7 linked regions of the Homo sapiens genome follow. The protein of the gene in region 4 interacts with the protein of the main gene of each other region in a biochemical or structural test. Each region holds a gene or a part of one and is shown on either strand. Other genes may lie near its edges. The genes, in order: SLC5A12, ARHGEF16, CYTIP, PDZD2, CLDN10, MMP24 and MKNK1.

Evidence for each region.
Region 1: the proteins of PDZD2 (region 4) and SLC5A12 interact in a test that uses a peptide from one of them, tested with the Homo sapiens proteins (one large-scale study listed by IntAct).
Region 2: the proteins of PDZD2 (region 4) and ARHGEF16 interact in a test that uses a peptide from one of them, tested with the Homo sapiens proteins (one large-scale study listed by IntAct).
Region 3: the proteins of PDZD2 (region 4) and CYTIP interact in a test that uses a peptide from one of them, tested with the Homo sapiens proteins (one large-scale study listed by IntAct).
Region 5: the proteins of PDZD2 (region 4) and CLDN10 interact in a test that uses a peptide from one of them, tested with the Homo sapiens proteins (one large-scale study listed by IntAct).
Region 6: the proteins of PDZD2 (region 4) and MMP24 interact in a test that uses a peptide from one of them, tested with the Homo sapiens proteins (one large-scale study listed by IntAct).
Region 7: the proteins of PDZD2 (region 4) and MKNK1 interact in a test that uses a peptide from one of them, tested with the Homo sapiens proteins (one large-scale study listed by IntAct).

The regions. Positions count from the first base shown.
Region 1 is NC_000011.10:26,677,061-26,680,560, reverse strand, and holds part of SLC5A12 (sodium-coupled monocarboxylate transporter 2), read left to right. Parts: intron 1-1,745; coding exon 1,746-1,849; intron 1,850-3,500. UniProt on the Homo sapiens protein: Acts as an electroneutral and low-affinity sodium (Na(+))-dependent sodium-coupled solute transporter.
Region 2 is NC_000001.11:3,464,665-3,468,164, forward strand, and holds part of ARHGEF16 (rho guanine nucleotide exchange factor 16), read left to right. Parts: intron 1-1,483; coding exon 1,484-1,529; intron 1,530-2,137; exon of another isoform or gene 2,138-2,250; intron 2,251-2,503; coding exon 2,504-2,673; exon of another isoform or gene 2,674-2,686; intron 2,687-3,500. UniProt on the Homo sapiens protein: Guanyl-nucleotide exchange factor of the RHOG GTPase stimulating the exchange of RHOG-associated GDP for GTP. May play a role in chemotactic cell migration by mediating the activation of RAC1 by EPHA2.
Region 3 is NC_000002.12:157,427,090-157,430,589, reverse strand, and holds part of CYTIP (cytohesin-interacting protein), read left to right. Parts: coding exon 1-31; intron 32-3,169; coding exon 3,170-3,239; intron 3,240-3,500. UniProt on the Homo sapiens protein: By its binding to cytohesin-1 (CYTH1), it modifies activation of ARFs by CYTH1 and its precise function may be to sequester CYTH1 in the cytoplasm.
Region 4 is NC_000005.10:32,086,631-32,090,130, forward strand, and holds part of PDZD2 (PDZ domain-containing protein 2), read left to right. Parts: intron 1-500; coding exon 501-3,500.
Region 5 is NC_000013.11:95,559,220-95,562,719, reverse strand, and holds part of CLDN10 (claudin-10), read right to left. Parts: intron 2,589-3,500; coding exon 2,427-2,588; intron 2,339-2,426; coding exon 2,257-2,338; intron 1-2,256. UniProt on the Homo sapiens protein: Forms paracellular channels: polymerizes in tight junction strands with cation- and anion-selective channels through the strands, conveying epithelial permeability in a process known as paracellular tight junction permeability.
Region 6 is NC_000020.11:35,274,594-35,277,498, forward strand, and holds the end of MMP24 (matrix metalloproteinase-24 preproprotein), read left to right. Parts: coding exon 1-16; 3' UTR 17-2,405; downstream 2,406-2,905. UniProt on the Homo sapiens protein: Metalloprotease that mediates cleavage of N-cadherin (CDH2) and acts as a regulator of neuro-immune interactions and neural stem cell quiescence.
Region 7 is NC_000001.11:46,559,269-46,562,768, forward strand, and holds part of MKNK1 (MAP kinase-interacting serine/threonine-protein kinase 1), read right to left. Parts: coding exon 3,381-3,500; intron 2,406-3,380; coding exon of another isoform or gene 2,375-2,405; coding exon 2,210-2,374; intron 1,010-2,209; coding exon 966-1,009; intron 544-965; exon of another isoform or gene 402-543; intron 1-401. UniProt on the Homo sapiens protein: May play a role in the response to environmental stress and cytokines. Appears to regulate translation by phosphorylating EIF4E, thus increasing the affinity of this protein for the 7-methylguanosine-containing mRNA cap.

The sequences.
Region 1 (3,500 bases), on a different chromosome or scaffold from region 4:
CTATGGTGTAGAGAGACGATTGTGGACTTTGAAATCTGAAATATTTGGGTTTGGATTTTGGTTTTATAATTTATTCCCTCTGTATCTTTGGACAAGTTAGTAAGTTGTAACTTCTTGAATTCTCAGAGCCCTTGATGGAAAAATGAGGAAATATATATATATATATGAATATATATACATATATATATGAATATATATACATATATATATGAATATATATACATATATATATGAATATATATACATATATATATATGAATATATATACATATATATAAAGTAGCACTACACGTGACTTTAATAAATGTTCACTCTCACATTCTAATTGTATGTAAGAGCAAGTCTAGAAAATATAGGATTTGTGTTATTTGTGTATCCTCAAAAGTACTTCATTTTTAGTAGCCCTTTTCTGATTATCATCAATATCTCCCCATACTGGCTCATTCCCTCTGAGTCCAGGCTTCTCAAACTGGCCAGATAATGTGGCAAATTGCATTCATGAAAGTCTCTCTCGGTCCGGCATATCTTCTCCTCTCCATTGTCCTTGTCAATCTTGAGGCTAGTCTTGTCTTTACAAAGTCCAGAAAAGTGAAATTATCTTATTTGTATTTTTTATTTCCTCCATTTTTCTATCTCTTTTCCTTTCTAATACAACCCATTCTATCCAAGCATCACTAGATTTATTTTTTCTGAAGCACCTTTCTGAACTCATTACTACCACATGGAGATGACTTAAATGATTCATGTGCTTATGGAATAAAACACAACCTTTTTATCCTGGAGCTAAATACCTGCCAAACTTAAAACTTTCCTGTGGTTTTAATGTTATTAACTATTGTTTTCCTTCTACTCTGAATTCTGTTTCTTCTCGTCTACCTATGCTTATCCCACTCTTTCCTACATTTGGGTCCTTAAGCTATTCCCTTTACATGAATATATTTTAGTGTTCATTTCCACTCTCCTAAAATCTGTTTATCTTTCAAGAGCCATACTAGTGTCTCCTATTCCTCCATAAAGTTCATTTTGACTCAGGTTCCAAATGGGCACTCCATTATTTTGCTTCCATTTGTCTTTGAGTTTCATTTTCTTTCCATAAATTTTATATCGAAGAATTTCAACCTATTCATGGTTCCCCATAAACCATGTTGATTCTTCCCTCCTGCCTATACTTACTGTATTCTCTTCTTAGAATGCTAATTCCTGGCCCTGACTACCCTCTTTGCTTGATTAACTACTAATTATTCTTTCAAAATGAGCTGAGGTATCATCTCACGCATTGGTCTGAATTTGATACTACTCTGAAGGCTGCCATAGTATTTTATACCTTTTCTACTGAGGCAAAACCAACCCATTTTATGATTGTCTATTAGCTCCTGTATGTAGACTTTGTGACTTTCTCATCTTTATATCACTAATGCTTGTCACAATTACTAGCACTAAATCTGGGCTTAATAAAAGTCTGAAGAATAAATAATACAAATGAAATTGTATTATTTGTATTAAGACACAATCCTCATTGTAATACTTATGATTCAGTATCAACATCGTTATATTTGTAATTCAGGAATGAATTGAATTGAGTGGAATACAAAGCACATCTTCTCTAAATATAATTTTTTAAATGACAAAAAGTTATGATTTAGGCTTTTGAGATGCCAGGCCCTAAAATGAATCCTGAGCAGTCCTCTACATCACTGTGGGTCTTTAGGATGCATGGAATTGGTGACATGTGCTGTTCTCCACAGACCTGGAATAGCTGATACCTGGTACTCGATCTCCTACCTTTACTACAGTGCAGTGGGCTGCTTAGGATGCATTGTTGCTGGAGTAATCATCAGCCTCATAACAGGTTGGTTATAATTCCTCCCTTTGGGACTAAAGAAGATATGGGCTCATGCATGCATTGGTGGACTGGCTGTCTGTCTTATTGCTTTGAATTCACGTTTCCCACAAAAACCCTTCTTCCCACAGAGATGTCTACTCTCTCAACGCTGACATACAAAGGCACCCTTCATTATTATATACCTGACTATTAATATATAAAACATATATTCACGGGAGGCTGAGGCAGGAGAATCGCTTGAACCCAGAAGGTGGAGGTTGCAGTGAGCTGAGATGGTGCCATTGCACTCCAGCTTGGGCAACAGAGCAAGGCTCCGTCTCAAAAAACCAAAAAAAACCCCAACCAAACAAAAAAACATATATTCAAACATTTCCCATATATTATTTAAAAAAAGATGCTTTGACACATGCCCCCCAGAGGCCTGAGTATGAAAAACCCTCTGTAATATAACAATCAGTAAATAAGGTTAAATATTCAGAGTGGTTCTTTTCCCTTCATCCCAGTAAGAGACAAGATTTTTGTCATCACCATCTTACTATCTCATGAAGTCAGCCTTTGCTAACTTACTAGAAAAGCAAAACACTGTTGTTTTTGCCTATGTTGTCCTTTGGAGGCTGCTTCTCTAGGGTCGTGGAGTTCTCTGCAGTGAGCAGCTTCACTGTAAGCCATTTTTAGCAAAGTGTCTACCATCCATACTTGCCCTTTTGATGTATTAATGTCCTTTTTGTTTCAAAGCCCATGAGGGGTTGGTAGTGGTGAGAGTGTGGGAGATAATGGGGTGGAATAAGTTCACTGTACTCTTGTCCCTCCACCTCCTTGGAGTATGTATTTTAGCTAAAAAATTTTAAGGTATTCTATTTTTCCATGACTATTATATACCAATGAACAATGGCCAACATTCTGACTCAACACAAAACCTGAATGGCAACATTTCTGGTGACTGTGTACTAGAGATGTTATATTGAAGCTCCAATGCCCTATTGTTCTGTGCATGATGTCACTAGCCATTCACTGAAATTTAAGAAGATCTTGGCTATGATAAAGAATAGACTATAAATCTTGTAACCCCAGTCTTTCACATAATAACAACTCTCTCAATGTCTTTATGTAAATGGTTTCAGGCAAAAGATTGTTTATTCATTTTGTTTAGATTTTGCCTTAGTACCCTGACATCTGTAACTCCTTCCTTGATGCTAGTGGGATATACCTAGACATTTCAGTTTAGTGATCGGTCACCACTAAGAAGACAACCAAGATTTCAGCTGCCTGAACATTTCCTTCTAAATCAGGAAATGTGTACACATGAAATCCAGTAGTTTGCCAGTCCATATTTTCCATGTGTGCACCAGAATTAGCATGCTCTTATGTTGATACAGCAGCACTTATATTAAATTTGATTGAAAATTCTTACACATTTTCAGCATGAATAACTCTTCCAGTATTAATCCCTTTGTTTTCTTTTTCTCCAAATAAGCCAGGTCTTAGTCAAATGCCCTTCAGGCCAAAAGCGAACACTCTAACAAAGTCTAATTATGCCTTCAAACATTTGGAAAAATTTTTGAACATGACCACCAGATGTTCTTGCCTCCTGGTCCCTGTCTTCCAAATGAGGCCTTAGGGCTAGCCTGATAACCTCAGGTCTGCTCACTAAGAGGCT
Region 2 (3,500 bases), on a different chromosome or scaffold from region 4:
GGACGAGGGCGGGGGCAGGTGCTGTGTGACCCAGATGAGTTCCTGAACCTTCCTGAGCCTTGGCTTCCCCATGTGGAAGCAAAGATCACAGCCGCCCTCTGGGCATCCTCTGGGCAGTGTCCACGGAAGGTGTGTGCCAGAGCGTCTTCTTCACTGGTTGCCGTCCCAGCTGCCTCCTCAGGCCCAGCTCCTGCCCAGACTGGGAGTGGCAGTGCCAGCCTCAGGAGACGCCAAGACCACCTGTCAGAATGTCCCATGGGCGTCCACTGCAGGCCGATGGTGGCTGAGGTGGGGTCCCCCATGTCCCCAGCACCAGCCACTGTCCTCGGTCACAGCTCTCTCTTGTGCCTACCTGAGACGCCCAGGACTCAGAAATGCCTCAGCACCTCTGCCGCAGGCCCCTGCACCCCAGCAGCTGGAAGGGCCCCAGCACTCTCTACACCCACCAGGCCCAGGCCCATGGGGCTCCGTTCATTCATTCACTGTTTATTTCATGCAGTCAGCAGACACTTCTGGGCACCTGCCACATGCTTGGTGCTGGGGTTCCAAAGTGAGCCCACGGGCATGGGCCTGGTTCTCAGAGGGCCTCCAGCGCAGGGAGAATGCCGAGGGCTGGGCTGAGGGCAGCTCGGGGGTGCTGGGAGCACAGAGGAGGGGGCTCCCCATGGCCTCGGGTCAGGGTAGGGTCCCGGAGGAAGGAGGGTTAGCGCAGAGGCAGACAGGAGGAGAGGACGGAGTCGGGGTGGGGGAGGCAACAGCTCCAGCCAGACCTGGAGGCCGAAGGGGGGCTGGGGGAGTCCTTGAGGTGGGGTGCGGGGCACGGGGCTGAGGGTGCCAGGCCAGGTACAGCTGGGAGCACCACACACTCCCAACCAGTAAGGGGAGTTTACAGGCCCCAACTCGTTCCGAGAAATCAGCCCCTTTCCTTCCGGGAACCAGCATACCTGTGGCGTCAGGAAAGTGTGGTGTCCCAGCCGAGGAGGGTGGGCTCCGAGTCGGGCACCTGAGCGTGGGGGCTTCCCAGGAGCCCAGCCCTCCCGTCACTTCTGCCATCCCGGCCTCCTGCTGGGGCCCCCAGACCCATGCTTGGGGCTGGACACTGGCCAATCCTTGCTCGTCTGTCCCACCAGGTCCTAGTCCCCAGGGGCCTGTGTCCTGCCCCACTGTCCCTTCACAGCCCTCTCCCAACCTCACCTGCCCTGCCACGGGCCTGCTCGAAACTCTTCTGAGCGTCCCCTCACGATGAGTTCAACCCTTCCTCCTCCTCCAAGCAGCCCTCAGTCACGTGTCCTGCCTGCTCTGAGCCCTCCTCCCACCTCTCTTGGCCTCTGCTTGGCGGCCGTGAGGCCCTGTGGAGCTGACATCTATTGGGCACAGCTTCGCATGTGGAGCCGAGAGGTCTCTGGGGTCCCAGGGCAGAATCGCCGTGGGCAACACCTGCCCCGGCTGACAGCTGCGGTTTCTGTGTCTCTCTTTTGTGCAGAAGACGCTGGGGAGGAAACGTGGGCACAAGGGTTCCTTCAAGGACGGTGAGTGTGGCTTCGGGAGGCACCGCGGGCTGGGCTCCAGTTGAAACTGGTCTCACTGGGGCACCCTGGGGTTCGGGTGGGCCTCAGTTTGGTGTCTCGGGGTCACCAAAGCTGCTTGACAGGGTCCTTCCAGAGGCTGAGGTCCCAGTGGCTGGTCTGTTCATGTAGCCCTGATGAGTCTAGAAAGGTCTAGAAAGTTCCCTTGGACTCTATTCTGTGTGTTCTGAAGGGCAGGGTACAGACAGAGCCCCCAGTCTTGCCCTGAACACCCCATGTGTGTGCTGGGCCCAGCCTACAGTGGCCGTGTTGGGGGACCAAGGCCAGATCAGAGGGCACCGGCCCCACACCGCGGGCTCTGCCCGGACTCTTCGAGGCTGAAGGGGAGCCATGTGTTGGGGCCTCCAGCATGGGTGGCGGTGGTGCACACTCAGCCTGCTCGGGGGAGATGAGAACATCCCACAGGGAGGTTGACATAGGGAGGTGCCTGCTACCTGGGTCCAAATGCCCGGGGGTGTAAAGAGATTAGAGGCAATGAAGCCCGGGGAGGGCTAAGGCCTCGAGTGCCCAGCTCCAGGCCTGAGGCTCCAAGACACAATGGCCCCTTCCAGCCCCCAGAAGCTTTGTGGACAGGCATGGGCCCAGGAGGGGGTACCCAGGTCTCCTCTACGGAAATCCCTGGGAAGTGTCCCCAGGAGGCAGCAGCGATGCCCCACGTCTCAGGGTAAGGCTGGTTGGGGGCTGCTGTGAGGGTTTGGAGGCACCCTGAGCCGGGACCAGCCCATTTCAGGTGGGACTTGTGGCATAGGAGAGGTCTTGGGACTGGTGCCCAGCCTGGGGCAGTCCCCTCCCAAAGCCTCCCTCTCCCACACAGCCGTGAGAGCCTGTGGGCCTAGAGGACTCAGCTGGCGGGTTGCAGGGAGGCGCAGCCTTTTGCAATCCCCCAGGGCCACAGGTTACCCTCCTTCTCTCTCTAGACCCCCAGCTCTACCAGGAGATCCAGGAGCGGGGCCTGAACACCAGCCAGGAGTCTGATGACGACATCCTCGATGAGTCCTCCAGCCCCGAGGGAACCCAGAAGGTGGACGCCACCATTGTGGTCAAGAGCTACCGGCCCGCCCAGGTCACCTGGAGCCAGCTCCCAGAGGTAGCGCCGGAGGGTGGGTGAGGCTGCCCCACAGAGGCAGGGAGAAGCCACAGTCCCCCTGCTGTTCCTTCCCCAAGCCCAGGCGGCTGGTCCCCAGCAGCAGCCCAGTCCTCCCAGGGAGGGTGGGCAGCCTTCCCAGAAGCCCCTCGGCTGTGGGTGGCAGACCTGGGGGTCTCCCTCCTGTGCCCTCAGAGTCACCCTGCCCATGCAGGGCCCTGCCGTCGTGCGTGCGAGGGCCAGCCCTGCTCAGACTACCCTTCAGGGAGCTGCGGGCGCCAGGAGTCCCTTCCCAGGGCCCCCGCCCCAGGAGAGGGCTGAATGATCTGCGTAGGGAGACAGCTGGGATGGGAGGGGCCGGGACTTGGAGCTGGGGCCAGGGCCAAGACACTCCTTCACTTTCCATATCTGAAATTGGGGGCCCGTCCCTGCCCTGCAGGGGTCTCAGTGGAGAGCGTGGCCCGGCATTGGTCCCCATGCTTGGGGGAGATGGCTGCTCCTACCCCAGGTGGACCGGCATGTGACCCGCACCCTGAGGCCCAAGGGAGGGGACCATGTGGCCGTGGGCGTGGCGGGCAGCGGGGAGGGCGGGCCCCCACCTGTGGTACAATGGGGCTCCTTGTTCGCCATTCAGAGGGGCTGGCACTGCAACCACCCACCACACACCATGGTGCTGCGTACCCTGGGACCCCGGCCAGGGCAGGCCCAGCGTGGGGTGAGGGCAGGCAGCGGGCAGCCTCCCCACAGATAGAAAGGCCTAGAAGTGCAGTCTTACTCTCCTGCTGGGAGCTGGGGGCGTGTGGTCTCCCTCTGTCGGGGATGGAGTCCAG
Region 3 (3,500 bases), on a different chromosome or scaffold from region 4:
ACCTGATCAGATCGTCCGGAAACCTGCTAACGTAACTATCTGTCTAGTTCCCGTGGGGCTTCAAAATGTTATGTTTTCTCATAAAGCCTGATGAGTGAATAAATAGGCCTTTTGTTCAGCATTACAAGACGGAGTGAGGCAGTGCACCGGAGCTTTAGAGTGGGGTACAAACATTATCAGTTCCTTTTGTTTCTCAAGATTCCTCACACTTGAACATACTGTCAACATCTGAAGTCAGAGGACATCAATAGCCCAAACGTCTGTGTGGGAAGGATGGCCTTTACAAATGTATTTTTTTAATGTCAAATTCAATTAAACTGGCACACATTCTCTTTAAACTGGGAAGAACTGATCCAATTTTCATGGTTGATATAATCCTGTAGCTAAAACAAATCAAAGGTCAGAAGGGCTGAGTTTTTCCTCTTATGTGACAAGCCACCTGTTTTTCTCTTCTAGTGTTCCATTTGGAAGGAAGAATAGTCTGTTCAACCCTCCCCACCCTGAAACACACATACTCACACCACATGTTCCAAATGTTCCAAACTTCTTTTTTTTTTTTTTTTTTTTGAGACGGAGTCTCGCTCTGTCGCCCTGGATGGAGTGCAGTGGCGCGATCTTGGCTCACTGCAAGCTCTGCCTCCCAGGTTCACGCCATTCTCCTGCCTCAGCCTCCCTAGTAGCTGGGACTACAGGCGCCCACCACCATGCCCGGCTAATTTTTTGTATTTTTAGTAGAGACGGGGTTTCATCGTGTTAGCCAGGATGGTCTCAATCTCCTGACCTCATGATCCACCCGCCTCCGCCTCCCAAAGTGCTGGGATTACAGGCATGAGCCACCGCCCCTGGCCCCAAACTTCTTAATAGAACACTGGCTTTCCCAATTAGAGGTTTGACTGATTTTTCTACCATAACAATACTAGCACCTAATAAAATCTTATTAGGATAGTTAAATGATGAAATTCGCTCATTCATTAAAATCATATTTATTGAGCAAATACTATGTTTCCAGCTCTGTGATAGGCTCAGGAGAGACGAAGATAAAGACTCTCTTAGTACGTTAATAGTTATGGAAGGAAATGGCTCAGAAAAGCCTGAAATTTAAGTAATGTGTATATTTCAGTTATTGATAACTACTATGAGAAAAGTGCAAAACAGCAATGGCCTGTCATGCTAGGTAAGAAGGCTGCTAGTTTGGCTTAGATGTGTAAAGTGGTCTTTTCTAGGGAGGCGATATTTGAGTTGAGATCTAAATGAAGAGAAGGATGGTCAAATGAACTCCTCGTAAGAGCACTTCAGGCAAAGAGAGAGGTCTCTGAGTGCTCACAATGGGCTTGGCATGTACAAGGGAAAGAGAAAAAGACAGTATAATTGGTATTTGATGGATTAGAGAGGGTATAATAAGAAATGAAGCCAGAGAGTTGGCCTGGGGGCAGACCATGGATCTCTTTGGACATGCCAACAAGTTTGGGTTTTATTCTGATTGAGGTGGGTCATATATTGTGTCATTTATTCTTCACAGCCACCCATGAGGTTAATTTTATTCCTATTTATAGATGAAGTGCCTGAAGCTTAGAGGGGGCTTAGTTAAGGTCACATAACTGGTAAGTGATAGGGCTGGGGTTTGACCACCTGCTCTGGATGCCAGGATCTGTCCTTTTCAGCTACAGCTGCTCCTTGGAAGCTGCCAGTAGAAAATCTGCTGGATGCTTTTCAGTGATTCTGGTGTAAAACTTCAAAGGATGCTTTGGGTGTTTGTGAGAGCAGATTTGAAAGATGGTGGTGGTAACAAATTGGGTCCAACTCTATAGGTCCTGTGAGTTCAGGGTAAAGGATGAGGTGCTTTTGCTCTAGAGAACCCTGGATCCAAAGGAGAGGAACCGTGCAGAGTCTGAGGGGAACTGCTGGTAGTTAGAGTCAGAAAGCATGTTCCACATGGGTGAAGAGGGTAGACCACAGGTAAATAGGGGTTGTAGATGGAGGTAACTGTTGGAAATCCGGGAAAATGGGAGACAGTCTGTACAAATACTGAGGAAAATGGCCAAATCAATGGTTGCAGTTTTGCCCATACACATCTATTGCTTCAGCAGGTCAAACTGACATTCAATCCCAATGAAACAGATTCATATGGATTCCCACTATTTCTCAGAGAGTCAAGATCACCTTAAGGAGAAAACAGACAGTATATAGCTTGCTACCACCTGATTATTCCTGGCATGATGCTATTAGAAGTAGAAGACTGATCTCCACATTTAATGCTTTTACCATGCCTTGAAAAATTCCTTGCATCTTTATAGAGAGGTACAGCTTAATTACAAGAAGGAACTTGAACCAACACTTTAAAAATTGGTGTGTGATTCACAAATGAAATTTTTAAATCATATTCAGATTGATGGTTTAGTAGTCAAAATAAAAGCCTTTAACTTGAACACACAGAACAAATCAAATCACTCAGAATAGAACAAGTATTTTATTTTTAGAAATGTGTGTGGTGTGGGAAGAACAGAACACTGGTAAGTTGATAATTCTAGGATTAGAGTTTGTAAACTGAATGTTTTGAGATAAAGAATCATATGAAGGTTATTATGTCATAGTAGTTGTACTTCTGTTTCTTCTAGTACCAAAATTATAAGGAGATTTACAGAGGTAAAGGCTCCTAGAATCCTATGGAGGAAAGGATTTCTCCCTCTTTCAAGAAGTAGCATGTTAATTCCATGGTTGTGAAAGCCCCTAGAGCCTATTATTTCTGTTGTTGTGCCCCTTGTGTTCAGCATGGTTTCTAGAATCTGGTACATAGTAGATGCCCAATAAATATTTACCAAATGAGTGAGGTCATTCAGCCCATCCCCACAAGAACAGATTCTAGTAGAGAGCAGCCATCATTGTCACATAGTGACTTCTATAAAATAAGCTATAGTTTACAAATTAACTAGGATCCTTTCTTTTAGCCACCTTCTCAAGGGGAGTTTTCCCCCATTTTCTTTCTCTGTTATCAGAAGATTTGGCTTTGGTCCAGCTACTCGAAGTGCCATGAGAACTGTAACATTTGTATTTCGTTTTTAGTATAGTATGTGCTCAAAGTGTAGTACTCTGTAGTATGGTACTTATTTAAACGAATCACTCATGTTACTCACTCCCCACCTTCCTCTTCTTTTTTTTTTCCTTAAAACAGGATAGAGACTCTTAATGGAACAATGATTCTGAAAAGAACGGAGCTTGAAGCAAAGCTGCAGGTTTTAAAGGTAATTTAATTTAATGCAGTGAGGCACATTTTTCATCCTTGAATGTGTGAGTGGTAAAATAAAGATCTATTTGAGGAACTGAGATAGCCCTTGAAAAAGAAATGTCGTGGTGAATCTAAACTGCTGAATTATCAAGAGCCGCACAATTACCTTTGGAGGAATATCAAATTCTGCAAACCAGTGTAAATCACTTTCTTCCTTCCTCCTTCTGTGTGTCTATGAGGCTCAGAAAGGCAACAGGAAGGCATGCCACTTGAAGAA
Region 4 (3,500 bases):
GAAGGGCCTCCATTTAGGCCACAGAACGCCGTTTTGTTGTTGTTGTTGTTGTTGTTGTTTTCTGAGACGGAGTTTCGCTCTTTTTGCCCAGGCTGCAGTGCAATGGCACATTCTCGGCTCACTGCAACCTCCACCTCCCAGGTTCAAGCAATTCTCCTGCCTCAGCCTCCCAAGTAGCTGGGATTACAGGTGCCCACCCCCATGCCCAGCTAATTTTTTTTTTTTTTTTTTTTTTTTTAGTAGAGATGGGGTTTCACCATGTTGGCCAGGCTGGTCTCGAACTCCTGACCTCAGGTGATCCACCCGCCTCCGCCTCCCAAAGTGCTGGGATTACAAGCATGCGCCACCACGCCCAGCTTTCTGAAAAAGAAAAAAATATTTGAGGTTGTTTATAATTTTCTAGTTTTTAATAATTGAGGGGCTGCTTTCTTATATTATCCCTTTTATCTCCCCTACAACCTCTCCTGTGTATGTACCTTCTGTTTACGTTCCCCACGTAGAACTGGACAGCTCCTCAGACCTCATCTCTTCCCCAGGGAAGAAGGGGGCCGCTCATCCTGACCCCAGCAAGACCTCTGTAGACACAGGGCAAGTCAGTCGGCCAGAGAATCCCAGCCAGCCTGCATCGCCCAGGGTCACCAAGTGCAAGGCCAGGTCTCCAGTCAGGCTCCCCCATGAGGGCAGCCCCTCCCCGGGGGAGAAAGCAGCGGCTCCCCCTGACTACAGCAAGACTCGATCAGCATCGGAAACCAGCACACCCCACAATACCAGGAGGGTGGCTGCCCTCAGGGGAGCGGGACCTGGAGCAGAGGGAATGACACCAGCTGGTGCTGTCCTGCCAGGAGACCCCCTCACATCCCAGGAGCAGAGACAGGGAGCTCCAGGTAACCACAGTAAGGCTCTGGAAATGACAGGAATCCATGCACCTGAAAGCTCCCAGGAGCCTTCCCTGCTGGAGGGAGCAGATTCTGTGTCCTCAAGGGCACCGCAGGCCAGCCTCTCCATGCTGCCATCCACTGACAACACCAAAGAAGCATGTGGCCATGTCTCGGGGCACTGCTGCCCAGGGGGGAGTAGAGAGAGCCCTGTGACGGACATTGACAGCTTCATCAAGGAGCTGGATGCTTCTGCAGCAAGGTCTCCGTCTTCCCAGACGGGGGACAGTGGCTCTCAGGAGGGCAGTGCTCAGGGCCACCCACCAGCCGGGGCTGGAGGTGGGAGCTCCTGCCGTGCCGAACCAGTCCCGGGGGGCCAGACCTCCTCCCCGAGGAGGGCCTGGGCTGCTGGTGCCCCCGCCTACCCACAATGGGCCTCCCAGCCTTCGGTTTTAGATTCAATTAATCCCGACAAACATTTTACTGTGAACAAAAACTTTCTGAGCAACTACTCTAGAAATTTTAGCAGTTTTCATGAAGACAGCACCTCCCTATCAGGCCTGGGTGACAGCACGGAGCCGTCTCTGTCATCCATGTATGGCGATGCTGAGGATTCTTCTTCTGACCCTGAGTCACTCACTGAAGCCCCACGAGCTTCTGCCAGGGACGGCTGGTCCCCTCCTCGTTCCCGTGTGTCTTTGCACAAGGAAGATCCTTCGGAGTCAGAAGAGGAACAGATTGAGATTTGTTCCACACGTGGCTGCCCCAATCCACCCTCGAGTCCTGCTCATCTTCCCACCCAGGCTGCCATCTGTCCTGCCTCAGCCAAAGTTCTGTCATTAAAATACAGCACTCCGAGAGAGTCGGTGGCCAGTCCCCGTGAGAAGGCCGCCTGCTTGCCAGGCTCATACACTTCAGGCCCAGACTCTTCCCAGCCATCATCACTCTTGGAGATGAGCTCTCAGGAGCATGAAACTCATGCGGACATAAGCACTTCACAGAACCACAGGCCCTCGTGTGCAGAAGAAACCACAGAAGTCACCAGCGCTAGCTCAGCCATGGAAAACAGTCCGCTGTCTAAAGTAGCCAGGCATTTTCACAGTCCGCCCATCATTCTCAGCTCCCCCAACATGGTAAATGGCTTGGAACATGACCTGCTAGATGACGAAACCCTGAATCAATACGAAACAAGCATTAATGCAGCTGCCAGTCTGTCCTCCTTCAGTGTGGATGTCCCTAAGAATGGAGAATCTGTTTTGGAAAACCTCCACATCTCTGAAAGTCAAGACCTGGATGACTTGCTACAGAAACCAAAAATGATCGCTAGGAGGCCCATCATGGCCTGGTTTAAAGAAATAAATAAACATAACCAAGGCACACATTTGAGGAGCAAAACCGAGAAGGAACAACCTCTAATGCCTGCCAGAAGTCCCGACTCCAAGATTCAGATGGTGAGTTCAAGCCAAAAAAAGGGCGTTACTGTGCCTCATAGCCCTCCTCAGCCGAAAACAAACCTGGAAAATAAGGACCTGTCTAAGAAGAGTCCGGCAGAAATGCTTCTGACTAATGGTCAGAAGGCAAAGTGTGGTCCGAAGCTGAAGAGGCTCAGCCTCAAGGGCAAGGCCAAAGTCAACTCTGAGGCCCCTGCTGCGAATGCTGTGAAGGCTGGGGGGACGGACCACAGGAAACCCTTGATCTCACCCCAGACCTCCCACAAAACACTTTCTAAGGCAGTGTCACAGCGGCTCCATGTAGCCGACCACGAGGACCCTGACAGAAACACCACAGCTGCCCCCAGGTCCCCCCAGTGTGTGCTGGAAAGCAAGCCACCTCTTGCCACCTCTGGGCCACTGAAACCCTCAGTGTCTGACACGAGCATCAGGACATTTGTCTCGCCCCTGACCTCTCCCAAGCCTGTTCCTGAGCAAGGCATGTGGAGCAGGTTCCACATGGCTGTCCTCTCTGAACCCGACAGAGGTTGCCCAACCACCCCTAAATCTCCTAAGTGTAGAGCAGAGGGCAGGGCGCCCCGTGCTGACTCCGGGCCGGTGAGTCCGGCAGCGTCTAGGAACGGCATGTCCGTGGCAGGGAACAGACAGAGTGAGCCGCGCCTGGCCAGCCATGTGGCAGCAGACACAGCCCAACCCAGGCCGACTGGCGAAAAAGGAGGCAACATAATGGCCAGCGATCGCCTCGAAAGAACAAACCAGCTGAAAATCGTGGAGATTTCTGCTGAAGCAGTGTCAGAGACTGTATGTGGTAACAAGCCAGCTGAAAGCGACAGACGGGGAGGGTGCTTGGCCCAGGGCAACTGTCAGGAGAAGAGTGAAATCAGGCTCTATCGCCAGGTCGCAGAATCATCCACAAGTCATCCATCCTCACTCCCATCTCATGCCTCCCAGGCAGAGCAGGAAATGTCACGATCATTCAGCATGGCAAAACTGGCGTCCTCCTCCTCCTCCCTTCAAACAGCCATTAGAAAGGCAGAATACTCCCAGGGAAAATCAAGCCTGATGTCAGACTCCCGAGGGGTGCCCAGAAACAGCATTCCAGGGGGCCCCTCGGGGGAGGACCATCTCTACTTCACCCCAAGGCCAGCGACCAGGACCTACTCCATGCCAGCCC
Region 5 (3,500 bases), on a different chromosome or scaffold from region 4:
TAAAATAAACCATGAGAAGTACAGGTTTGCTGCATATTTATGATATCAAACCCTAAAATAAAAATGTATCATTTAAATACAATATTTCTTTTAAATATCATTAAAATATTTCTAAGCTTCAGAAATACAGCCTTGGTTTTTATTTCAATGTTTCCTGCCATGTACATCTGTGCAAATCTCATTTGAAAGATAAGTAGGAGAAAATTAATAAATTAGGACATGTTTTTGTATTATAGGCAGGGGATAAAAAAGTTATATTGAGGTCTAAAACCCATTTAATAAAATTTGTTTTTCTTTCCCATTTAATAACATTTCTGAATAAAAACTATTTTTAAATGTATAGAAAAGGCTGGGCATGGTGGCTTATGCCTGTAATCCCAGTGCTTTGGGAGGCTGAGGGAGGAGGATCATTGAAGATCAGGAGCTGGAGACAACTCTGGGCAACATAGCAAGACCTGTCTCCGTTAAAAAATGTAAAAATTATCCGGGGCCGGGCGCAGTGGCTCACACCTGTAATCCCAGCACTTCGGGAGGCTGAGGCGGGTGGATCACCTGAGGTCAGGAGTTCGAGACCAGCCTGGCCAAAATGGTGAAGCCCTGTCCCTACTAAAAATACAAAAAAATTAGCTGGGCATGGTGGTGCGTGCCTGTAATCCCAGCTACTAAGGAGGCTGAGGCAAGAGAATCACTTGACCCTGGGAGATGGAGGTTGCAGTGAGTCGAGATCGCACCACTGCACTCCAGCTTGGGCAACAAGAGCGAAAACTCCATCTCAAAAAAAAAAAAAAAATTATCTGGTTGTGGTGGCACATATATGTCCCAGCTACTCGGGGGGCTGAGGTGGGAGGATCACTTGAGTGCAGAAGCGCAAGGCTGCAGTCAACTAAGATCACACCACCACACTCCAGCCTGAGTGACAGAAAGAGGCCCTAACTCTTAAAAAAAAAAAAAAAAAGGACGAAAGAAACCTCTTGATGAACAGTACATGTAGCATATTGTCACAAAAATTACAAAATAGTGGAATATTAGAAATCATGCTTTTTAAGAGCCAGTGTTCTGAAGTTCAACTGCCTGGTTTGAATCCCAGTTCAATCAGCCTACTAGTTTGGTCCAAGTTCCCTTGAACACATCACTTGGCCTCTTTCCTCAATTTAAAAAAAGAGTACCAAGAGGACCTACTTTATAAGGTTGTTTGTAAGAATAAAATAAAATAACACAATAAAATAATATTTGCAGTGCTCTGCTTGGCTCCTGGTGGGGACTCAACATGCGCTAGCTATTATTTTCATTTTATTTCATGATATAAGCATTTACTGTTTATGCGTAAGGTACACTTAAGCCAGAACTAGAAAATCAATTTCCTGAAGATTCCTAAAACCACCAGAAAAAAAGTAAAGCCCAGCTGACCAGCTATTTCAGTAATATACTTCTTAAAAATTCTATAAAATTTGACCTGAAGTCTAAAATAAAATTACCAGCCTCATTGATAGCAATACACACACACGTACGTGAGGCTTCCTAAAGAGGGATGTAGATACATTCTTAGGTAAGACAAAATATTTAATATATTAATTCTGATTTGGTATCCCTGGGGTTTTCCCAATCCAAAGAAATAAGCCTAGGGAAACTATAAAAAGCAACAGCCCATAGTTTAAAAACAACACCAACAAGCAAACTGATCTGTTAATTCCAAAGCATTCATCTGCAAGACTGACCAGCCACATTTGGGTAAAGGTGCCGTGCTCCTACAGCATTTTTCAAAAACCTTGCATCGTATACAGTTTCTTTATAAAGGTTTATTAGGAGGAGCTTGTTAAGACAGTAGTTAATACAGCAAATTTAAAAGACCCAGAAACTAGCATCTGGCAAATATCATTTTGAGTGGGCAACAATCAAGGCAAGGTTTTAATTTTCTATTCGCACACCGCATCATTCTTTCCTCTCCGTCTGACACCTTTCACGTTTCCTCTACTTGACCTCAGTTTCATGATGTACAGCAAACGATGAAGTTTATAGTTCTAAATTTGATGCCTTGAACTGTTTCGAGACAAGACACTGCAACACTAGCAAACTAATTAAATGCATATTTTGCGTATGTGGCATATGACACATTTAATCTTGAATGATGTCATCAGTTACCATTTATCAGTATGTCTTACTTTCAAAAGTCATATAGGAAATTCATGTCTCTTGGTTGAGAATATTAATTTATATACACTTCCTGTGAGCTGGAAACAGACTGAGAAGAGTACTTACTTTTGCTCAACAAAGAGAGGATCAAAGAATTCCGTTGTGATTTTGTTTGCATATAGGGAACATCCAGTCATTGAGCACAGCCCTAACAAATATTAGAGGGAAAGCACTATGGTTAGTGTGATTTCATTAACATCATCAAGTACCTTGTTTGGAAGAAAGTTACTATTTACCTGACAGTATGAATACAATCCCAGCCAAACAAGCAATTTTAGCTTTGGCTTTATCGGAGCCTCCGACTTTGGTACACTTCATTCCAAAGAGCGCAAATATGGAACCAAAGAAGCCCAGGCTGACAGCAGCGATCATAAGTCCTCTACATGCCTGTATATAACCTGCAATTAGAGTAGGTCATTTACGTTACATAAAGCATGTGGCTGTCCAGGGAGAAATCCTCATTTTACGTTGTCATTCTGGATGTTTGTTTTCCAAAAAGATAACTGTGATGGTGAAAACATGTGGCAAGACAAGCAAGAAAGGAAAGCAAGTTAATCTACAGGGAGTGCCTATTCTAGGTCACACACTGTGAAGTGCGGTTTATGGGGAATCCTCAGGATAGATCTGAGTGTTATTTCCATATTCACCAGTGAGGAAACTGAGGCACACAAAGGTTATGTGACTTACCAGAGGTGAGTTAGAAAGTGGCAGACATGGATTCCATCCCAAATCAGACTACGAATTCCATATAGTGAAATTCCACAGTGAAAGGTGCCTTTCACTGTGAAAAAACATCATCTGCCACCATCACAACTCTGTAGCTCCTCCGCTCATTGGACTTTAAAAGGGTGTTTTAATGGTTTTGACATTATCAAATGATAAGATTTATAACTGGGTGGCAGAAAGAGATCCAAAGGGTCAAACCTTCCAATATTAGTGGACGCTTATTAATAGCAGACTAACTGGAATATCATCATGAACCATGGGGGGTCTAAGGGAATACTTTAGTGAAGTACTATTGTTTTCAGGGTGTATATAATAAAACTGGGTTTTAAAAAGCACTATTTTGTAGAAGAGTAATTTATAGTGATTAAGTCAACTGTTCTTTTATAAATGAATGCCTTTAAAGTACCCTAACGAGTATGTTCTGTCAGTTCGTTTGTTCATCCTTCCTGTGCTATTCATGTTCTTAGTCATGTATTTTTATTTGCACAGCCAGGGTACACGGTAAACTTCAGTGTGGCTTTTGTCCAGGTTTTTACATTAACAGGGTTTAAACTAATAAGCTTTTACCACATAAGCCATTTTCA
Region 6 (2,905 bases), on a different chromosome or scaffold from region 4:
CCAGGAATGGGTGTGAGCAGCCCAGAGCCCTCTCTATCCACTTGGTCTGGCCAGCCAGGCCCTTCCTCACCAGGGTCTGAGGGGCAGCTCTGGCCAGTGCTCACCAGGGCCAGCAGGGCCCTAGGCTGGGGTCGTACAGCTGAAGTGGTGGGTGCATTGGCCTAGGCTGAGCGTGGGGCAGGGAATTATGGGGGCTGTGCCCCAGGGTGGGTGTCTGGCACCCAGCTGCCAGCCTTCTGTCCTGGGCAAACTACTCCCTACTTAAGGGAATAGGCCAGGCTCCATCCGGAGGCAGGGACCATGCCAGGAGGAGCCCCTGTGGTCACGGCATCCTGTGGTGTCCATGAGGTACCACAGCTCCACTCCTGGCTGGAACCCAGCACCCTCTGTGGGAAGCCAGCACTAGCTCTCATCCCCCATCCGGGAGATACCACCAGTCCTGGTCCCCTTTTGCCAACACCTGCTGGTCAGATGTCCCCCTACCCCCACCCCACTGTCCTCCAAGGCTACAGGACCCCTGCTTCTGACACAGTGAGCAACAAGCCTGGGTTTCCCTGCTGGCAGACGGCAGATCCCTCAGGAAACCTGCTCCACTTGTCAGGGTCTCTTCGGAGACCCAGGATTTAGGGTCACATGCTGCAGGCAGGGCTGTGGCCCAGCTGGGTCTGACAAGGACCCAGCTGTCACATCGTGAATATTTAAATGTCCTGTCACTACTGTCCCATTTTGCAAAGGCTGCTTGAGGCTTTAGGTGAACTAGAGGTGACTGTCTTGGTGATGAGGCCAGCATAGCGGCCCTCCCCCAGGCGACAAGGACCAAGGTGCTGCTAAGGCCACTCTAGCGCCCAGACACCCCAGTAGCTGAGCTCTGCTCCTATGGCTACAGAGCTGGGGCAGAAGCTGACCCCATTTCTGGAGGAAGATCCGAGTTTGTGACCGTCCTCCACTCCCCTCTATTGTCACTGTCCCCAGCTTTGCTCCAGTCTGTCACTTGCAGCCTGGAGCTCAGCCTCACCAGTTAGGTGAGGCAGAGATGGCTGCAGGGCCAACACTGGCAGAGCCTGGGAGTCCTTCGGAAGGGGACCAGGGCGTCTGAAGTGCTCAGTGCCCCCACTACTCTGAGGCCGACTCCAGCTACTCTGAGGCCGACTCAATCTCTCGGCTGGAAGCAGTGTTTTCCCAGAGCTTGGCCCTTGCTGACCTCGCTCACTGGGCCCATCTTCCCACACTGCTCTTAGAAGGACACCCCTACCGGTAGCAGCCCCAAGCTGAGGGGGCTCCCTTTTTGACCTTCACTGGCCCGCCCTTCACTGTCTCCAGCAGGAGTTCCTAGGGCTTGGCCTGCCTTGCTCCACAGTACGGCGGAGGCAGCCCTGCTTGTCACTGAGGAGCCCTAGACAAGGCCAATGGGTTCATCAATGCCCACTGGCTCTCTGCCAAAGCCAAAAAGGTGTCAGGCAGTCTCCAGCGTGCTGGCCGGGTCTCGGATGCCACCCCTGCTCACTGAGCCTGCATGGGCCTTGCCCCCGACCCTGTGGTCTCTGGGATTGGGGTCGGCTTACCCTGTAGCACAGACAGGGACTCCTGCTGCCCTGGGAGCTGTCTCAAGCAAAATCTCTTGTCCCAGAGGTGCCCATGTGGGTCCGCTGTGTCCCCTGTCATCATCCTTGTTTTTTCTCATTTTGGCCAAGGGCAGGCTCCCTGGGACAGGCAGGGAACAACTGCGGAGATATTAGTGATTCATAGGTTTGTACAGTGTTTTATACTTTGCAAAGCACTTTATTAGCTCACACCTGTCCACTCACATGAAACTCGTGTTAGGCCCTGGGAGGCCGACGGTAACTCTCACCGTGCCCTCAGATGAAGCACAGAGAGGTTGTTACTTGCCCGGGCCATCCAGTGGGCTGGCTGGGTCTTGTGTCCCCATCTGTGGACCCCTCTAGGGTCTGAGATGAGATGAGAAGTGTCTCCTGTATCCACCTCTTCCTGGCCTCCCTTCCCCCACTTCCTGGTCCCTGTCCACTCCTCAGGTTGGTGCTCTCACTTCTTGAAAGCTCTAGGCACCCCCGCCTCCCGCCAGGCTCCCCATTGGCTCCTGGCAGGCCAGCTGAGAATGAACAGGAGATGGAGGCAGGCAGCCCAGGCTGCAGAGGTGAGGGATGTGGGGCCAGGCCCAGAGGGCTCAGCCTAGAGGCTTCCAATCTCAGATTCTCCTGCCTGTGGTCATCTGTTTGTCCATCACCCCAGGACAGGGCAGACAGAGGGGCAAAGCACTGGGGGCCCCAGAGCCTAGCTTCCCCTCAGCCTGGGGGACATCACAGCATTTCAGTGTCAGTCACATTTTAAACTGATCAGCCTTTGTATAATGTTTTTTAAATCATTTCTAAATAAAACAGAAATACAGAGTGTGTCATTTCCCTGGGATGAGGGAACAAAGATCAGGTTCCAAGAGTAACCTTAGGACGCTCTGGGAAGAGAACCGGGTCCTTTGGGGTGTCTGGGAGCTGCCCACCCATCTCCTCTGCCAGACCGGCGGTCAGATAGCCTCCCTCTACAACAGGCTGGCCCTGGGGGCCCAGGGTTATTGGGGTTCCAGGAACACAGCCTGATGATGCCTCCTTACGATCCAGGATGGAGAGCAGCCCCCCCAGGAGTATGGGGAGGGTCACTGTGGCACGGGCTTCTCCATGACCTGGGACATGACCTGGGACACATAGTCAAGAGCACGGTTATCAGCAATACAGATATTAATAAAAGGCAGACGAAGTCAGGAGGTCAGCAACTTTGCGGGCTTACCAGGAGGCCTGTCCTGCCTCTGGAAGCCAGCGACAGAGAGGGATGCCCCCGACCCAGCCAGCCGGAGAAAGGGATGGGGTGGTCACGAAGGTCTGAGCTGGGTCTGGGT
Region 7 (3,500 bases), on a different chromosome or scaffold from region 4:
AGGTTTGGCATCTAAAGGCATCTGGAGGCTGCTCTAGAGAGTCAGGTAGGAACCCAAATTGGGCAATAGCAACTGGGTCACACGAATTGCGATTATGGAGGTGTATGACTTCCTTGTGTAGCTCCTAAAAGCTGGCCATGAGGCTGGTGCCAAAAAGGTTTCCCACACTGCTTAGCCCTGGCTCTTTGGGAACAGGGCAGTCCAGCTGTAAAAGGGCTCCAGAGTCAAACAGCCCAGGGCTGCTGTGTGGCCTTAAGCAAGTTAACTTGATTGCCACTCCTCACCTCTCTCATCTAGAACACCTCTCTTAAATTCATCGTGAAGATTATGGATATAATTATATCCAGCCCTTAGCACCACGTCTGACATGTGGTAAGGACTTACTATTTTTTTTGAGACAGATGCTTGCTCTGTTGCCCAGGATGGAGTGCAGTGGCGTGATCGCAGCTCACTGCAACCTCCGTCTGCTGGATTCAAGCGATTCTCCTGCCTCAGCCTCCCAAGTAGCTGGCATTACAGCACCTGCCACCATGCCTGGCCATGGTAAGGACTTAATCCTGGTGGCCACTATTATCACTGTCCGTCTAGTACCGTACGTGCCCCTCACTTCTGCTCCTTTCATTAAATACAAGGGCAGAGGGAAGCCTTGTGTGAATAACCCATGGGTAAGGTCTGTCTTTGGGCTGTAAGTTACAGTTCAATGGGCAAAACAGGTTTTTTTTCCTGCCAACAGTGCTAGGAGGGGCCTTAAGGTGCTGGAGGGCAGAGGATCCAATCTAGGTGAAGGAAGGGAAGGGTGGGAGATAGATCCAGAGTAGAGGAAAAGAGAGTGAGGAGGGGAAATGGGCAGGGAGCCCCTTTGGAGAAAGCTACCTGAGCCTAGAGATGGGCTCCCCCGGCCCCCACCCCCATGGTGGCTGAGAGCTTGAGGAAGAGCATGGCGTGGGGGTGGTCAGAGCATTTACCTCTGGAGGACTTGCGGCGTGGGGAGTCCCTTTTCTGGAGCTTGCTAGAATGGGAAGGACAGATGTGTAGGTAAAGCACTGCTCCCTCCTTTCAAGAACTGCCCCACCCAAGCCAGCAGTGGGTAGGTTACTATAGGCTGCTGGCGCAGCACAGGGAAATGGCTATGCTTGCTTGCAGGGTCAGGCCTTCCAAGCAGAGAGCAAGAAAGGTACAATCTGCAGCCGCAGCCCCCAACATAGCTGCTTCTGCATGGAGAGCCCCTCTTTCCCTTTGCCTGGCAAAGTCCTAATCATCCCCCAGGACCCAGCTCAAGGGTCACTTCCCCTGTGACGCACATTTCCCCTTCCCTGCCACCTTCCTGCCTCAGTCTCAGGCCCGGGATGGGGAGTGGGGTCTTGCTCCCTTTGTGCCCCTAGCACTTTTCAGAAGCCTTTATCATGCTGTAACTTATCCCCTTGTCTACTTCTCTCCACTAGAGCACAGAGACAGGGACTGGGTCTCACTTGTCCCTCTGGCATGTGGCAGGTGCTCACTTATGGGTCTGGGAATGAGCCAGTTAGACACTCAAACTGGGTCCCCATCTGCAACATAGGATGGCAATGCTTGCCTCCTTCCACTGGTAGGGTCACTGAGGCTGGCCAGAGCCTGGCACACCAAGGAGACCAGAAAGTCATGGGAGCATCTGGCAGACCCCTTGGAGGGCAGAGGTCAGGTATTGTGAGTAGCCAAGGAGGATTTTTAAAAATGTTTTCTAGTGAAGACATGAATTCTAAGCTTAGGGAAAAAATACGATCATTTGCCTTTCAGGCCAGCTGTACCCAGACTCCCAGACCATGAGGAGAACCTATGTGCCCCAACTCGGCCACACAACAATCAGCGCAGCACGGCCTTGCTCACTTCTGGGTGTCCTCAGCTAATGATGCTTCTATATAAGAGGAGGATGCTACAGACTTCAAATGACAATAGGATGCTTGCGGGGCTGGGTGCATGTACCAAATCCCCAGAGGACTCTGTTGGGGCTTAGTCTGTGGCCAAGTTTACAGCCAACTCTATGGCCTATAAGGGGCTCAGTCTGGGGTAACAGGAGGAGTCGATTCACTCTACACACTCAGGGATAGACGCTGTCCTCTTCAGCTGCACCAGCCACAAGGCTGGTGCTCAGCACTTGCTGGCATGACAGCTTCCTTGTGGCCATGCCACAGGCCTGAAGTGGTGGAAAACACCCCTCCCTGGAGTCACTCACCCCCTGCACCCATGGGTGCTGCAGAACTTGGGCGGCGCTAAGTCTCTGCTTTGCATCTCGCACCAGGAGCTTGGAGATGAGGTCTTTGGCTTCACTGGAGATGTGTGCCCAGTCCTTGTCAGGAAACTCATACTTGCCTTCCTGGATGCTTTCAAACAGCTTGTTCTAGGTACAAAAGATTCCTCCTGAGGCCACACTGCCAGGGATGGGCAGGATGTGCCTGTCATTGTTTTGATCAACCGGCTTCAATTGATCTCAGCTGTAGCTGCAGCTCATGGCTTGGGGATGCCACAGACTGGGGCCTCTTCCCAGACTCACCCCGCACTGTCCCCTAGATGATCAAACTATATAGAATGCCCTTGGCAGGCCAGGATGGCTATGCCCTTGGTGGGCTGGATGGGTGATGAGTGGAGATCACCCATAGAACAAAGCCCAAATTCCTTGGCTCTTCCTAGAGGACTCTCTGTGAACCTCTCAGGCCTCATCTCCCACTACCACCGACCTACTACTCCACTCTTCCTTCCTAGACACTCCAGCTATTTCATGTGCCCACATCTATGCCCGTGCTGTTCCTTCTACTTGTGATTCTTGTCCCTCTTCCGCAGGGCAGGATGCACCCTTTAAGAGTCAGTTCAGGGCTGGGCGCGGTGGCTCACGCCTGTAATCCCAGCACTTTGGGAGGCCGAGGCGGGAGGATCACAAGGTCAGGAGATTGAGACCATCCTGGCTAACACGATGAAACCCCGTCTCTACTGAAAATATAAAAAATTAGCCAGACGTGGTGGCCGGCGCCTGTAGTCCCAGCTACTTGGGAGGCCTAAGGCAGGAGAATCGCTTGAACCCAGGAGGCAGAGGTTGCAGTGAGTCGAGATCGTGCCATTGCACTCCAGCCTGGGCGACAGAGAGAGACTCCATCTCAAAAAAAAAAAAAAAAAAAAAAAAAGAGTCAGTTCAGGCATGATCTTCTAACAATCCTGCCCTGAACTCCCAGCTGGGCGGAGTGTCTGATTATCTCTATTTTACCTTGTGGCCACCGTGACAGGAGCGGGAGAGGGCACTATGAGCCCCCATCCCGATCAGGAACGCTCTCCCAGCCCAGTCCTGCTTGGCATCCCCCAACCACACTGACCCCTAGCAGGGTCTACGCAGTGCTCCCTGGGGCCGCACTCACCTGGCACACCCTGCAGACCTCGCCCCGGTCCCAGCCACAGTCGGCCCCGCAGTGACCCACGAAGGGTGGGTAGCCACTCAGCATGATGTAGAGGACCACGCCCAGGCTCCACAGGTCACA